Linked DNA regions of Homo sapiens: region 2 is linked to region 1. The links come from fine-mapping of genetic effects on gene expression. Tissue or cell type: ileum. Region 1 holds a variant in brackets; the other region holds the start of a gene. All regions are shown on one strand. Distances are between the middles of the regions.

Region 1 (8,108 bases):
GTTGGAGTCTTGAAATATTGGGAACCAGAGAACCTGCCACAGAGCTCAGCACAGGAGAGAGAGGGAGTCAATTCTCAAGCCTGGAGAAATCCCCTGGGGTGATGAGGTGGAGCAGGAGGACCAGAGAAGCTGCTGAGGATTTGAGCAGAGTCAGCCTCCGAGACAGTTCTTTTGTGTCTGTCTCGAAGGCTCCACTCTGTAATTTTGATGATTTTCCTGTCCATGAGCTCAGTCTCTCTAATGCTGGTTACCTAATGAAAATCCCATTCTGGTGCCTTGGGACCCCTACTCTGCCTCTTCCTGGATCCACAAAACTGGTGGATTATGCCCTAGTCCATTACTTTGCATCTAGCTGATAGTGGACATTCCTTGGATTGTGACTGCTTGTTGGTATTTACCAACAGCTACCTGGATTCTTTGTGCTCTGTCCTTTGCACTTCCTTTCTCCTACCAGTGGGTCTTCCTCCAGCAACTGTGACCTGAGTCATGTTGGAGGTGATGACAGCCTTTAATACTGTACCTCAGCTTCACCCTGGAGGGAGATGCCTGAAGACTCTGCCTCCACAGGCAGGTCAATGTCCTCAGCCCCCTCTCCCACTCCAATGTGACATCCTTGAGCAGATCCTTGATCTGTTTCTCTTTTCACCTCCATGATTCTTCAAGGAAAGTCTAAAATCAAGATTTAGTTCTAAGAGAGTCTGCAATATTGCTAGATAAGCAAGAAGTACAAGCAAAAAATAAAAATAAAAAACAGCATTCCAAAGTAGGACACAGTCCAGTGCTAAGCTGTGTAATATGGCATGTGGTAGAAAATCTGAGAAGGGAAAGTAGCACAGGGCACTGGAATCAGGAACGGCTTCATGGAGGAGGTGAAACATGGGTTGGGCTTTGAGGATGGAGAGGTCAGTCTTCCATTTCCCCACTCTGGTTATAAGTGCTGTGTGCTCCCTCGGGAGAAGGGGGGTCCTTATGTATGTGGGCATCAAGGTCCCCAGTTTTTGGAGGATATGTGAGTGCCAGCAAAGGGGACCAGGAGGATAAGAAGGTCACACTCCCCTCTAGATGGTCATCAAGAGCTATTAGTTATGAAAGCTATTATTGACCAACAGATATTAAATCTTGGCTGCTTGTCCATATGGGTAATGATCATAATAGAATCTACTCTCCTGCCAAATGGATACAGATAAAATCTTGGAGAATAAAAAAAGACTTAGCTTTCTTGAGAGGGAACTCTCATTGAAATGGCATCTATGAAGAGCAAATGCCCTATTCTTAAGTAAGGCTGCAGGGAAGCTAAGGGTATGAGTGGAACACAGGATGGGGAGGTGGGAAATTAAGGCAGGAAGGGGACTGGAGTCAAGTCTGGTACTGAAGCAGTAATACAGGGCTTTTGAACCAGAGGTTTGTATAACAGATACATGTGGAACTTTGGTGAATTGCATACGTCAGCTCCATTTTTATCCCAAGATTCTAATACAGGAGGTCTGGGTGAAGTGGAACCTCCAGCTGGAACATAAGAGGATGTGGTTGTACTTACTCACATCCCCTGCCCACCTGAACCCTGGGAAGTGCTGACTGAATGAATGACAACCACATTGACAATGAACAGGACTTGGAAACCTGGTGGGGCAGTGATTCTCAAAGTGTGGTCTGTAAACCACCTGCATCTCAATCACCTTGGACCTAAGGAATGGAATCTCCAAGAGAAGGAAACTAGGAATCTGCCTTTTCAACAAACACAACAGGACAGCAGATACTTAGACACTTACATACTAAGGTTTGAGAACCACAAGAGAAACAGTAAGTACAGAAGCCCACCAAGCTCATACAAGCAGTAAGTGTTAGAGCTGGGATTAAAACCCAGGTCTGACTGACTTTCCAGGATGTAAAGGAAATCCATCCTTTTGCTATTATGTCAAGCTGCCTCTAAGAGCAGGTAACAGGAGGAATTTCAGGCTGGCTGTTGCTCAGGCAGGGGCGACTACAGGAAGATCAAATCTGGAGGTAGACAAAGAGGACCTCACCACAAAAACTGCTGGGCTGAGGCAAGACCCACACTTCAGAGGGATTGAATGGGGATGTTAATTAATACCTTTGTTCTTAAGAATCAGCAGGGTTCCAGGAAGAAGGGCAAGACCCCGGAGCTGGGTCAGAGGTACAAGGTAGGAACCTAGTTCCTAGTTCCTAGAAATAAGAAATGTCTTAGGAATCAATGTGGATCCTCAGAGTGGATTCAGAAGCCAGAGATTCCTTAAGTTCTCTCTGGCTAGGGTCAGGACTGATCCCCAAATCTGGTAAGTACTCTTAGTGAGGTAGACATTCAGTCCTGGGTAGGAAGCTGTGCTATCCTATAGTTGTAAATACTGGTTGCCCATTATCAATTTGAAGGGTACTGAGAAGGCCTGTGATTATACTCATAGGGCAAAAGCTCCCACCCAGAGTTCTAGTCTTTCTGTTGCCTTTAACATAGTGATCTTAGAGAGATTCTCTTCTTCACATGCTGACCCTAGGGCTGAAACTCAGCCTCTAACTCCTGGTCTTATTCCTGGGACAAATATTTATTTATTTCTCTTGGCTCTTCTGCATCTGATCTCCTTCTGATATTTGGAGAATTCTTGACCCTGCAAGTCTCACTGAAATGTGGATCTGGACTCTGTTAACAAATATCAGAAACTCAATTTTCCAGTCTTCTGAAGCTAGGGTGGGGAAAATGATGTGGACTTAACAAGTTAGATAATCAGAGAGAGCAATCTGAACTTTATTTGGGAGTGAGTGTCCAAGGGCAGCAGAGGTAGGCTCAGCATCACAGCTGGTGGAGTTCTCATGGTGGTCATCACATTCTGGAGTCCAGCAGTGGCTGCGGAGGAGTCCTTGCTGTCGTTTCCGTGGAATGAACTTTGCTCTGTGTCTGGCTGCATAGCCCCTCTGCCTCCTGGCAATTCTGTAAATGACCCAACATCCTTCTAGTTAATTACTTTGCTACTAAACAAGTCAGAAATGTATTAAGTTTCCCTTAGGAAAACATAAGCCCCTCTAGGTTTTTCAATGGAGAGAATTGGATATCAGGAATTGGATTGGTGGATGATGGGGAAGCTGAAAAGCCAAACAATGGTGAAGAAACCTAAAGATGAACAGTTGCAGAATGTTGTTAATTACAAAGGACTGGAGTCATAGTGGGAGGAGGAGGCTGAAGCTAACCAATGTGAGCTTCAATCATGCCTTGTCTAGTGGAGATGAAGCTTACCTGATGCAATGTAGTCAGAGGCATGGCCTGAGGCAAAGCAAGGAAGAAATAACTACCCTGACCTCCCTCCCCGTCTTTCCCCAGGCTGCCACCAGTGCACCATTGGCAGAAACATTGGCAGAGTCCAGCTGGCAAGAGGGCCTCGTCATCCCTGCAAGACATAGCAGAGCAAGGGAAAGGTGGGGAACCGATGGCAAATGACAAGCCCACAGTTAGTCTCTGCAGCTTTCAAATAAGAATATTGCTGGTCAGATGCTAAAAGAGGACATCACCACAAGAATATATTAGAGACAAAAAATTTACAGGCTGGGTATTTCTCAGGTCAAGTAATATTCTGTCTAGCAAGAGAACTATGGGTACATAGCGCAATCATAGATTTTACTTAGTTCTGCTTAAAACTCGTGTCTGTTTTGGTTTGTTTATTTCACTGTATTTCATACCCTTGGGCTGTCTGGCCTTCTCTTTTAACCTAGAACCCTGAGGAGGGGAGGCAGGTCAGTAATAACCACCTCCCTCTGCAAACTTCCACATCTCCAGTCCTTTCCAGAATTCTTTTACCACCTTGACCTGAGGTTTTTATT[C/T]TGCCCACGGGTTAGGGTGCCATAGTTGATTGTGAGAATGATCTAAGGGAGTCTTAAGTCATCAGGTCATCAGGGAGGTGCTAGACACCTGGCAGAGGAGAGATCCAGAGTTAGAAGAGGCCCCAAACACCTGCAGCCCTGTGGGGGCGATGGGAAAGCCTGCCTTCAGGTGAAAGAATCCATTCCTTTATAGTTTGTGACCCTGAGCACTCAGCCCCTACACTTCCTTTTTCTTGCTTTGCTCTTGCTTTGAATTAAAATTAGGAACTGAGCTTTTTTTCATCTTGATACCTTCAGTACTTAACATAGACCACTGTAACCGTGGTGACAAAAAAAAAAAAAACTATGAATGAGTAAATAAGAGAAACAACGAATGAATAACAGCTGCTATGACAATTAAGGCATATGCTCCATTGTGTGGCCATGTGAGATAAATGTCTCCTAACTCACTGCTCTTTCTGTGGCTGTCCCTGGAGATGGGCTTGCGCACCTCACTGCCTTTCCTGCTGTGGGAGGTGAGAGGACTGGGGAGCCCAGAAGCCCAGAAGATGCTCCTGCCAGTAGAGGGCTCTTCCTCTCACTGCTCCGAAGGGATGGCACAGCGGCTGAGCACGATGCTATGGTGGTGTCTGCCCACCTCTGTCCTTTCACCCACATCTCCCCCGTCACACTACTGGCCAGGTCAGGCTGGCATGGGAAATTTCCCTTAGGAGACCTGCAAGCTTGTGGCTTTCTCTTTTTAAATGGTGGTTTCTATGATAGGGAAGGAGTGGGGACTATTATCCTAAAGCCAAACTCACTAAATTTTCAATATGGCAAAAGAAAATAAAGCAAGGGGAGACTTAGCACATCTTAGCTTATAAATTCTGGCTGTCCTATGTGACTTTCTGTTCTGAGTGAATGCGTGATTTTTCCAATGACAAAGAGGGTTCTAGAGCCCCGTAACTTGGAAATGGCTTGGTCTTGGTCTATATTGATGGATATCTTTCTACCTCCACCTATTTCTCCATGAAAACCTCCCCCTTACACACACACACACACACACACACACACACTGCACACTGGTGTTCTGCCAGCCCCAAGGCCTCCTTCCTACTGCTAATTTATGATTCCTCCTTCCTGGTGTCAGTTTTGGCTGATACTAAAGTGGCTAGCACCTCTTTGGAGATCTTTGGAAAACTCCAGTGAGTTGGAAAAGACCAGGACATGGAATCTGTAGAATAACGCTGGATGACATCTGGTTGGATGAAAAATGGGGACAGTCTGACCCTAAGCAGCTTGCCAGAAGCTAGGAACAGCTGCTTCTCAAGGGGGAAGTGTCATCATCGCATCTCCTGAGTGGCCCATTTTCTGCTCTATAGGAGGTAAATAAACATAACACCACCTGAAAATTGGCCTTTTGAAAAAAAGACTTTTTTTTGAAAAACCATCACGGAGGTTCTAACGTTGAAAACTGGAAGCCCCTGGAGCCAGAGTCATGGGAGGAAGTAGGAATGTGAGGGCCAACGGACTAACTGGTCTCTCTTACTGGGGCCATCTATTAACCCCAAAGAGGATGTCTACTTCAGTTTCTACAGTAACAGCTTTAGGGCTGCCCAGTGGGCATCTAGTGGGAGAGAAGGTGCATATTTGGGGGAAATTCTTTAAACACCAAGTTGTTGTGTGTCTCCCACATGGTGTGTGCAGGGGTCTGTGTATCTGTGCTTCACTAGCATCCTTCTCTTTCTCTTCCTTTCTCATCTTTTCACTCTGTCTTTCCACTTCTGTCTCCTCTGGTCTCTGTCTCACTCTCTACTTTGTCTGTCTTCTGTCTCATAGTCTCCCTCTTCACCTAGTTTTCTTTCTCAGGTTTTCATTCTTCCTCCTCAGCTTGGCTCTCATTTTCTTATTGTGCTGGGTTGAATAGTGTTCCCCCAAAATTTGTGTCCTACCTGGAGCCTCAGAATGTGGTTCTATTTGGAAATTGGGTCATTGCAAATGACCTATTTAATTGGTTATTTAATTATTCAATTGGTTATTTAATTAATGGCCATCTCAGTTAAGATGAGGTCATTCTGGTACAGGTGCACCATGAATCCAATATGATGGTATCCTCATAAGGAGAGGAGAAGAGACACAAAAACAGACACACCCTGGCAGATCACTGTGTGACTACGGAAACAAGAGACTGAAGCAATGTGTCTACAAGCCAAGGAACACCATGAATTGCTGGCAATAACCCAAAACTACAAAGAGTCAAGGAAGGAATCTTCCCTAGCACCTTCAGAGAGAACATGACCCTGCTGACATCTTGATTTTGGATCTCTAGCTCCCAGAACAGTGAGATAATATGTTCTTTTAAGCCACCAATTTGTGGTACCCTAGGAAACAAATGAATTTATCACTAAGTTCATGCATACTTCTTCTCCCTATGCATAGCACGCCCCCCACACACCCCACCCCCCCCACTGCCTTTTTTCAGATTCAAACCATTGATCTCACCCATTGCATTTCTGGCATCAGGTGTCAGCTGGCTCATTTTCTTTGAGGCAAAGTTCATATCCACTGGATTCACACCTCAGTTGCCACATGGGCTGCTTCTCTGCTCAGAAATGCCAGGAGTTTTTAAATAGTTCATAAAAGGGACCCCCTTTTGACCTGACCCTCCCAGGTAAGTATGCTGTCTTTGAGGACCACAGAAAGGTTCAAGAATCTGGGTTTTCAGTCTCCACATAGCTCTGGGCAAGTCTCTTAACCTCCCTGAATTCTTTCAATGGCTTCATCAATTAAAAAAAAGGCAACTGCTTTAGTCTTTCCTGCCTCTGGAGAATGTTGTTAGTGTGAAAAGACCTTCAAAAGTACAACAAAGAATGCTGTGCACATTTATAGTCCTTTATTATTCAGACTTAGGAGGCTGGGATGAAATAAATATTTATGGAACCCAGAAGGTGACATGGAATTTTATGGATATTATGACGTTGGATCCTTAAAGCAACCTACCAAATAAGTGATTCCCATTTTAAGTGAGGAGAAAATTGACTTGAAGCAAAGAAACATCACTTTCATAAGAAACAGTGAAGATTCTAATTAAACCCAGATTTCCTGACGTCCAATTTAGAGATTACTACATTACACTGTGACCCTCTCATTTGTTGATTTATTATTTTTTATGGCACACTTCCTTCCCATCTTGAAATATTTCTCTGACCCTTCAGAAGAAGCCACAGACTCAATAGAGTCTGGTCCCCTGTGTAAGGAGAGGTTTAATTTTCAAGTACAAATATTAACAACAGGCCCATAGAGGAAACATTTTGGAGGAACAATCGATGTTGGCAGACAGGAGCCTATCAGGAGGTAAAGGATTTGTAAAAGTGAAGTTTAAGGCAAACCTTTGAAGGGGAGATGAGAAATGCTGCCTTCAGAAAGGAGGAAGGGTCAAATTCAAGGTCCACAGTGGGCTAGAGAGTGTGTGAATCTCCGCCTGAGCTCTGCAGCGGGGAGAGTTTGAAGATGTAGAATTCTGTCTGCATAGCATGCATTATGTCTTTATGTGATATGTATGCGTCAGAGAAGAGAATTTCTTTTCTGTCACAGGCATCGTCTAAAAATGCACACACTTGAGAAATCACCACTCTCTCTCCTTTCTCATTTCTCCACTTTCTGCACATCTTCCTACTTGCTGAGCCTTTCCTCTCATTCCAGAGGGACAGAAGCACCAGCACCTTCTTTAGGAGCTGTTTATCTGGCATCCGCCTCTCTGCTGAGAGAGCAGACCCCTCTTCTTCCCTTCTTTAAGCCCCAATTGTATCTTCCATCCTCCCACTCTGAGTGTGATTAGAGTGAAGAAAATCTCATAAAAAGGAAACTCAAATGTCAGGTAATTACAGCCCATAATTTGTTTATCTTTCAGAAGCCCATATTGGAGGAGCATTACTCACTCTGAGGATCCTGGCATAGGCAGATGCATCACTTGTATTGAAGTATATTATCTGCTGTGATATTTATGATGAAATGAGTTTGCCAGCCATCGTCTATCAGGTCACAAACTCTTACTCAGCCTTGAAAAATGGCTTTTAATACACTCTTGTTGCAAGATTGGGGTGGATGTACAATTTGTGACTTTCCTACCTCTGCTGTTCCCGGGAACAGGGTGTACAGGGCTGTGTACAGGGTGAACGGGGCGGGGAGCTGTGTTCCTTTGCCTTATTCACAACCTCCACCCTTGGTGCAGTGAGAACATGAGTTCCTTAAGGACAGTCCATGTCTTACTCATTTTGTGTCCTCTTTGTACAGGGTCTGGCACA
Region 2 (8,087 bases), 270 kb before region 1:
GAGTCCCAGTTGCCACGCTTTCTGCTCTGCCAAGAAGAGAGTGGGATTTGGGTTCATGGTTTTATTGTCACATGTCTGATATTGTAGAGTTTAAAGTCTCTGGGTGGAAAAAGAAACTCTTTCCTACCAAATGAGAGCTGACTGGGAACAGGAGAGGGGAATTCCCTCATTCCCTGTGGCTGTGAATCAGGGCCCCCGTGCTGAAATGTACGTCCCACTACCTGAAACTCAGACTCACTAGTGAGTCAGCAATGCCGCACCTGATTATCAATGGAGGGCAAAATGATGGGAGCATTGCAGGCCCAGGGCATGTTGGGAATGACTGAATCCTGAAGAGGCTCTTTTGAGAATACAGAAGAACTGATTCCTCAAGAGCTTGTGGAAAGACTCACAAGATGTTCTTATTCCCCAGATCAAGCAGATGAGGCGTGTATCAGAATAGAAGACATCAGGGTGGCCTATTGTCAGGGCTTGTTGCCTGCAGAGCCGGGGAGTTCCTCCTGATCTCTACCTTAATTCCACCTGCTTTACCCCCTTTCATTAATTCTTCAGTTGAGTGACATGAGAGTAGGGACTTGGTTTTGTTTATGGCAATATCAACAATATCAACAGTACCTAGATCCATGGGTGATTTTTTTTTTTTTTTTTTTTGAGATGGAGTTTCCCTCTTGTTGCTCAGGCTGGAGTGCAATTGTGCAATCTCGGCTCACCGCAACCTCCACTTCCTGGGTTCAGGCAATTCTCCTGCCTCAGCCTCCCGAGTAGCTGGGATTACAGGCATGCGCCACCAAGCCTGGCTAATTTTGTATTTTTAGTAGAGTTGACCATATTGGTCGGTCCGGTCTCCAGCTCCTGACCTCAGGTGATCTGCCCGCCTCAGCCTCTCAAAGTGCTGGGATTACAGGTGTGAGCGATTGCACCTGGCGATTTTTTTTTTTAAATCGTTAACAGCCAGTGCAGAACAGGTCAGAATAGACTTTGGCTGCGGAGCTGAGCAGGGGTCCAAGTGGATAGAGCCCCGGGTTTGTGTTCTAGTCTTGGTTTGTGGCTAATATGCCATGTGACCTTGAGTAAATCACTTGACCTCGCTGGGCCGCAGTTTTCTCATCTATGAAAAGGGAGAATTTAGACTAGAAGTTGCAATCAGATGCCTACAGGGTCAGGCAATTAAAGTAAATTAGTGAGCTCAATAGAGTGAGTTTGTATTGGCTGTAACGTGTAGACTCCCTCTAAATGGGCAACTGTTGCCAGGTAGAACTGCTGGTAGAGCATCCAGGGCACTTGACTCTTTAAGAGATGCTGAGAATTTTGATGTTTATGTGATACCTCCTGATATTTAAAATACTGTGTGGGTAAAAACTGGCTAAGTCAGTTTTAGTCTTGATCTAGATAGTCCAGAAGAACCCTCCCAGCTTGAGTTTTCTGATTCCAAAATATATGTCTTCTAAAGAAGGTCCTTAAGACATCCCCTTAGTCATGGGAATTTCAGCTGGTGCAAAAGTGAGTGCCTGTGTGTGGGCTCATACTTGTATGCCACTGGGGTTTTGACTCCCCTCAAATGACACTCTCCCAATGGCCTTACCCCTCATCCCTCTCATACACCTGCAGTGGAGCTTGTTTGGTCCCCAGAGCCCAGCCCTGGGCCAGATGGAAGATGCTGTTTGTCTAGTGAGCTCATCAGCAGTAAACAGCTAGCTGTGCTGATGAGCTTGCCCTTCCCCCAGTGAAGGGAAGAGTGGCCACAGGGCAGTGGTTGAGACAGAGGCTGGCTGAGTCAGGCCTTGGGGCCTTGCTGCCTTCCCAGGCCTTTGCTGGCTACATTCCAAAGCTAAATTGGGACTTGGAATCATGCCTACATTATTATCAATCTGGGGCTCTTCAACACACTTGTATGAGTATGCTAGGGCTACCATAACAATGTACCTCAGAGTGGGTGGCTTGAACAACAGAAATTTTTTGTTTCATAGTTCTGGAGTTTAAAAGTCTAAAATCAAGGGTCTGAGGGATGTGAAAAAAAAAAAAAAAAAAAGAGCTCTATTCCAGGTATCTCTCCTTGGGTTGCAGCTAGCTGTCTTCTCTTTATGTCTCTTCATATCACCTTCCCTCTGTGGGTATCTGCCTCTGTGTCCAAATCTCCTCCTTTTATAAGGACACCATTCATATTGGATTCAGGCTCACCCTAATAACCACGTTTTAACTTGATTACCTCCATAAGGATCCTGTCTCCCAATAAGGTCATATTCTGACATCTGGCTGTGGTTGCAGTGGGGGTGGTCAGGACTTCAAAATACAAATACAAATTTTTTTGTATGTGGGTGACAGTTCAACTCATTGTACCACTCCTCCACAGTTTCTCACTCATTACTTTAAACACCAAAACCTAAGTGACCTGCGCATGCCCCATTTCACCTACGACAGCTCAGTGGTTGAGGGTGGGGGATTTTTAAAAGTCTCATTTACTGTTGCACAGCCTCCTGCAAACCGGTCCTCTAGATAGATGAGGAAGGTGAGGGCAATCTCATCAAGCACCTGTTAGGGTACATGCAGGACTTGAATTTCAGGTAATAACAAGGAATGCCTTCTTGTTCTCTGACGCACTGTCTATATGGTATTTTTAATCTTTATGCCAATAATAATTGCAAGTACATATAAAGCACTTGATAAGTGCTAAATATTGTTGCAAGCAGTTTACATGTAGTTATTGAATTCCCACAATACCCCTGAGGTAGGTACTATTACTAACCTCTTTCTACAGATAAGACACCAGGGCCTAAAAAGCTTAAGAAACTTTCCCAAGTCTGTAGTAACTGATGGAGTTGGGGTCTAAACCCCAATAGTTGGCTCCAGAGGCTATGCTTTTACTCATTACACGATAGTGATCAGAGGAAGCAGGAACTCCAGTCTGGGCAACATAGTCAGACCCTGTCTCTAAAAAAAAAAAAAAAAAATTAGCCGGGCATGGTGACCCATGCCTATATTTCCAGTTACTTGGGAGGGTGAGGTGGGATAATTGCTTGAGCCCAGGAGGTTGAGCTATGATTGTGCCACTGCATTCTAGCCTGGATGACAGAGCCAGACCCTGCCTAAAAAAAAAAAAAAAAAAAAAAAAAGGAATTGAACTGGGTGCCAGTGCCTGTAATCCCAGCACTTTGCGAGGCTGAGGCGGATCCCTTGAGCCCAGGTGTTGCAGACCAGACTGTGTAACTTAATAGCAAGACCCCATCTCCAAAAAAAAAAAAAAAAAAAAAGGAAGAAAAAAGAAAGAGAAAAAAGCAAACAACAACAAAAAAGAAGGAAGGAATTATTATTCTCATTGAAGAGATGAGGAAACTGAAACCAAGAAGCCAAGAAGCTAAGTAACTTACCCAGGGTCACACGGGTAAGAGGCAGAGTAAAGGTAGAATTCTAGTCCTGAAAGCCTATGGCTTCTCCCAGACAGGACCAAGTGTCCTGGTTCTCTTCTTCATGTGCAACTCCACTTACACAGGCCCACGAGTAGTAGGGCCAACCCAGAATCTCAAAACCCTTATTTGTGCTTAACTGTCTGCATACTGCAGGGTAATTATGGGCCGTGAAGGAGGGAGGCACCCTCTCGACTTAGATCTGAACTCCCAGTCGCTTCCAGTTCCCAGGACCACCAGCCCTGAGCCGTAAGGCTAGGCCTGAATCTGGGACTTTCTTAGCCGGAGTTAGAAGCGGAGGAGTAGGGTGGGACGCTGGACGGACGCCGCTGGGCCGGGCAGCCCAGAAACGCGGAGTGTCATATTTCTTGCAACTCGCCAATCCCGAACGCCGGGGGGCGTGGCCACACCTGGGAGGCGTGGCCGGGCGGATGCGAAGGCTGCGGCGTCCTGGGGCGAGGCGCTGACGTGAGCTCGGCGCACCTGGGCTGGGCAGGTAAGGGCTGGTGCGGGACGGGGAGAGGAACCTGCAGTCCCTACTTGGGTAGAGCCAGGCGCCCCTTGGCTAAGACGTCGAGGAGCGTGGTAGCGACGGGTGATCTTCGCTGCGGACTTGGTTCGGAGGGACGTCCGCTTCTGGTGGACAGATTGAGCAAAGGTGGGTACGCCAACTTCTGGGGACCAGCTTGAGGGAGGAGAGGCTCCCCCGTGGGTGGGGTAGGACCCATCCCCGGAGTTTGTAGGGGGTGAGAGAACTTGCTTGGGGGCATCTGTGTGTTTGGGGTGGGTACCCACTGGGGCTGGGTGCCTGTCGCCCTTTTCCAGATAGCTTTGGGGCGGCCTCAGTTCTGTAGCGCTAGGCCCCTCTCGAATCTACACTTGTGTCTACTCTCCCTACCCCCACCGCCGAAGCGGAGGGCACTGCTCTCGGCCGTCAACAACCCCACTATCCGGTAGAGCTAAAGCACCGCGCCCCCTTCAGTCTTACCAACTTGCGGCTGGCCCCTGTGTCCCAGAGAGGGGACTTCCCAGGTCCGCAGGTCCTTGATCCTAGTGGGCGTTTTGGGAAACTGGAGTGAGGGTGGCCAGGAGCTTTGGAGCATTGGCGGTTTGTCTTCCCTCCCTGAGTCTGTTTGGCACAGTTAGGCCCTTCGCCCTGGGCCTGGGAGACAACCTTGGATTTCCAAGGAGCGGAGCTAGGTGCTGGGGAGGGTGGCGCTGGGGTGTGGTTGCTCTGGGGGTGGGCCCTCTTTGCCCGAAGGGGCTGGAGGGTGGTGTGGAGAATGGGGAAAGTCTCCCAGGCCTGACTTGGAAAGGAGGCCTGAGGTGTCACTCTTTACAGGGAGCCTGCTTTGTGGTAAAGGGGTCATCCTGTTCCAACCTGTTCTCTTGGTGGATGTCAAGAGTGGAAGTCAGGGAAAAGAGATGGATAGAGAGAGGAAGGCGCTTGGGTGGGATTGGTGAAAGCTGGTGTTGACCCAGGAGTGTGGTTTAGGATGAGACGTGTGTATGATGTATGACAGTGGCACTCAATACCTTGTAACTCCCATTCGCCATCCCCCAGCTTCCATCCAGCAGAAGGGAAGGGTGTGGGCATTTTGACTAGAGGCCTGCAGTTTACCCCTAAGCAGGGCTAAACAGGGAAGCCTGAGGAACGGAACTTAGACGATGGCATTTCATTTCTTTCAGGAGAAAGGGAAGAGCTGGGACTGCTAAGAATTGTCTGCGAGAAATGGCGTGTGTTTTAACCTGAGCAAAACCACTGACGGCCAAATCTCGGCTTTTGTGTGGCAGTGCCCCTGGAAACTAGTCTGGGGAGGAGCTATGGAGGTGGCAATGAGGGTGTTTATGGAGGACCTGCTCCCTAGAATAGGGGTATGGGAGAGGACAGTTATGCTCGGAGGAGGCTGAAAGTGTCCCTCCTCTATGCTCACTGTGAGGGGAATAGATAGGTTAGCATCATTGTCCTTTGGCTGTTTAAGTACCTGTTAGAGACACAGGCCTTACATTTTGCTGTGATGGCAGCTAGAGATACCAAGATGAGTTCAACTAGGCTAAGGTGGTTCTTCAGGCGTTGGGATTTGGGTGGCAAGAGTGTTTAGAAAGAGAACTCTGATTTAGGTGTGTTTGAGAGTGGATGTTATGCAGTCTCCACCTCAATCACTTTATTGGCCCTCTATGCTGCTGGGATCTTTGTTGATGTTTTTAGTTTACTTTCTTGGTGCGCAGAAGATGAGAGGGACATGGAAGACAAGGTGCAGTGGCAGGGTTTGGTACAGAACACTGTGACTTAGGAAATAAAGCACCTCAGCCCAGATGTAAAATGGGGATAGTAATATCACATTCAGGTTTATGAGGATGAAATCAGACATGTTAGGTAAAGGTTCATGTAAAAATTGTAAAGCCTACACAGATACAAAGGATTGTTGTTACCATCCTTCATAAGAAATGTCTTATTGTCCTGAGGTTAAGAAAAAATTACTTGTAGTTTTTTAAATTATAAATTGAAACATATCATTGTAGGAAAATATGAATCATATATAATGTATATGGGAGAATGTAAAAAGCACCCATAGTTGCATCACTAGATAACCATTACAAATATTTTGTTGCATTGTTGTATTTATTTCCTTTTTTCAGTTCTGTGTGTATGTGCACATGTATGCAAGTATATGCTGTGTTACAAGATGGAGATAGTGCTACACAGTCAAGTTGTATGCTGTTTCCCCCTGCCCCCACAACTTCATATTGTAAACATTTCCTTGAGTATAATACAAATTCTGACACCTGTTGTTAATGGCTACTTAATATTGCAGCCTGTGGTTGTGACGTAATGAATGTTTCTGTCTTGGCCATTTGGGTTTTCAATTGTTCCATCTCTGCCTGTTTTTAGACTTGTAGTTACTGGGTGGTGAGTGGGGGAGATCTTGGCTGACTTTCAGAAGGTGGAGAGGGTTTACAGTGAGAGAGGCAGGGCATGGGCTTGGAGGAGGGCAGGCTGGGGCTCCTTCCATGGGGCTGAGGCAAGGCTGCTCTTGTGTAGTCCCATCTTAGGAGAACACTGAGAACCCAGGGCTCTAGATCTTAATCACTGATTTCTGTGGGTGGCTGCTTCTCCTTTCCCATCATCAGGTGCAGCTCCTGGTCTTGGCCTGATTGCCTTAATTTTTGCATGGTGGGATTTGGATCAACTACAATAAGTCCTTTTGGACTTTTCTTCCAGTCCACTATCAGTCAAGAGTTGGATTTTAATGTCTGACAGGCCCAAACACAGCACTTACCAGTATTGCAATGGAAATTCTCAAAAGCTCTTTACTAGATTGACTGGTTTGGTGCCTATTTCCCTATCCTCTTTTTCCTTCTCTTGCTCCATCCCCCTTTCAGTAGTGATAGGACTGGGGAGCAGAAGGTAGAACTAGCCGTTGAGAGAATATGCATCCCCTCCTCCTTATAAGGCTTATAATGCACTCCATGGTTTGATGGTTTCACATGCTGCCCTACAAAACACCGTAATTCAAGGCCAACTACATGGGGGTACTTGAACACTGCGTGCCAACCTGACCTACCCACTATGCTCCCAGGGGGAAGGTTTCAGTTGCAGGACTTGGTAATTGGGTCAGAAAGCTCAGGTGAGAGCAGGTCTTGCCTTGCTCTTAAAGTGCCAGACGCTGAGTTGGGTTTGGGTTTTTCACATTTGTTGGGAGTCTGGCTGGGGAGAGAAGTGGTGTTATGGGCCACCCCGTCAGCTAAGCTCTTCTGAGTAGGAGCCTTCAGCTGACCCTTTTAACCTCTTTTCTTTCCCACCTGGCACAGTTTATTCCCATATTTAGCTGCTTTGCTGTAAGGTTGTTTGGTTTCAGAACTGTGGTCCAGGTAGGGATCTTTCTGGGTATGAAGGTGACCTATTTATCTTCCCCTCCTTCTCAGGCCATTGTGGGGCTTGAGAAGTTCCAGTGTGGAGTTTCTCAAGAAGGAACATGGAGCGTCAGTGTTTAGTAACTAACACCGTGCTTGGCACACAGTAGCTGATGAACAAATATTTGTTGAATGAGTGTTCTTTTTCCAGGCATCTCATTCTCATCTTAAGTAAAAACAAAATAAGAACACCAAAAAATCCAAACACAACATCTCAGACAAACAATTCTCCAGTGACTGTTTTTTTATCAGTCACCCAATCTGGGAAGGCTTTTGTTTTCTGCTGTGAGTGCCAGCTGCTCTTGAATGTTATCTGCTATGCCCATGTATTTTTACAAGAATCAATTGCAGACTTTACCCATGCTGGCTCCTGCAACCAATTGGTTCACTCCAGCCTTCACTGGGAGATAAACAGACCCAAGGGAGGAGGCTGTCCTAGCCATGCAAAGCTTGTCTCATGACTGCTTTTAGTACTCTAAGTACTCTTAGTACTTTAGTATTTGGTTATTCTAGGGCTTCTGAGCTTTACCAGACTCAGTAGTGGAGACGTGTTCTCAGCCTTTGTCGCCAGTGTTCCCAAGCCTTCTCCCAGACACTGGATTGTTGTATGGATAGCCAGCTGAGACCCCTCCTTTTCTCCATACAGAATCTTTGAGCGGTCAAGGGAAAGACAAGCCGACTCTTCAGATCCCTGTGGACACACTGCCTGCTCTTCCATGTAAGTGAGGACTCTGGAGTCCAGGATCTACCCCTTATCTACTTCTCCCTCAT

Alleles and levels. Alleles are on the strand shown, and positions count from the first base shown. SD is a standard deviation of normalised expression in the study named.
For the expression in ileum of the gene that starts at base 3,864 in region 2, C is the high allele of the variant in region 1 and T is the other (moderate effect, 0.63 SD a copy in CEDAR).

The links. PIP is the estimated chance that this variant, and not a neighbour inherited with it, causes the effect.
Region 2: it holds the start of IRF6, and the variant in region 1 is fine-mapped to the expression of IRF6 in ileum (CEDAR, PIP 0.95).

Annotation. Positions count from the first base shown.
Region 1 is chr1:209,530,981-209,539,088 of GRCh38, reverse strand. It overlaps LOC105372898 (a long non-coding RNA gene), which reads left to right. Exons shown (of 7, transcript XR_922535.3): 4 at 7,715-7,842. Among named protein-coding and RNA genes, the nearest start is that of CAMK1G, 49 kb to the left of the region's middle. The variant C/T (reference allele first, on the strand shown) is at 3,826.
Region 2 is chr1:209,801,919-209,810,005 of GRCh38, reverse strand. It overlaps IRF6 (interferon regulatory factor 6), which reads left to right and starts at 3,864. Exons shown (of 9, transcript NM_006147.4): 1 at 3,864-4,059; 2 at 7,963-8,034. RefSeq lists a silencer at 3,599-3,942.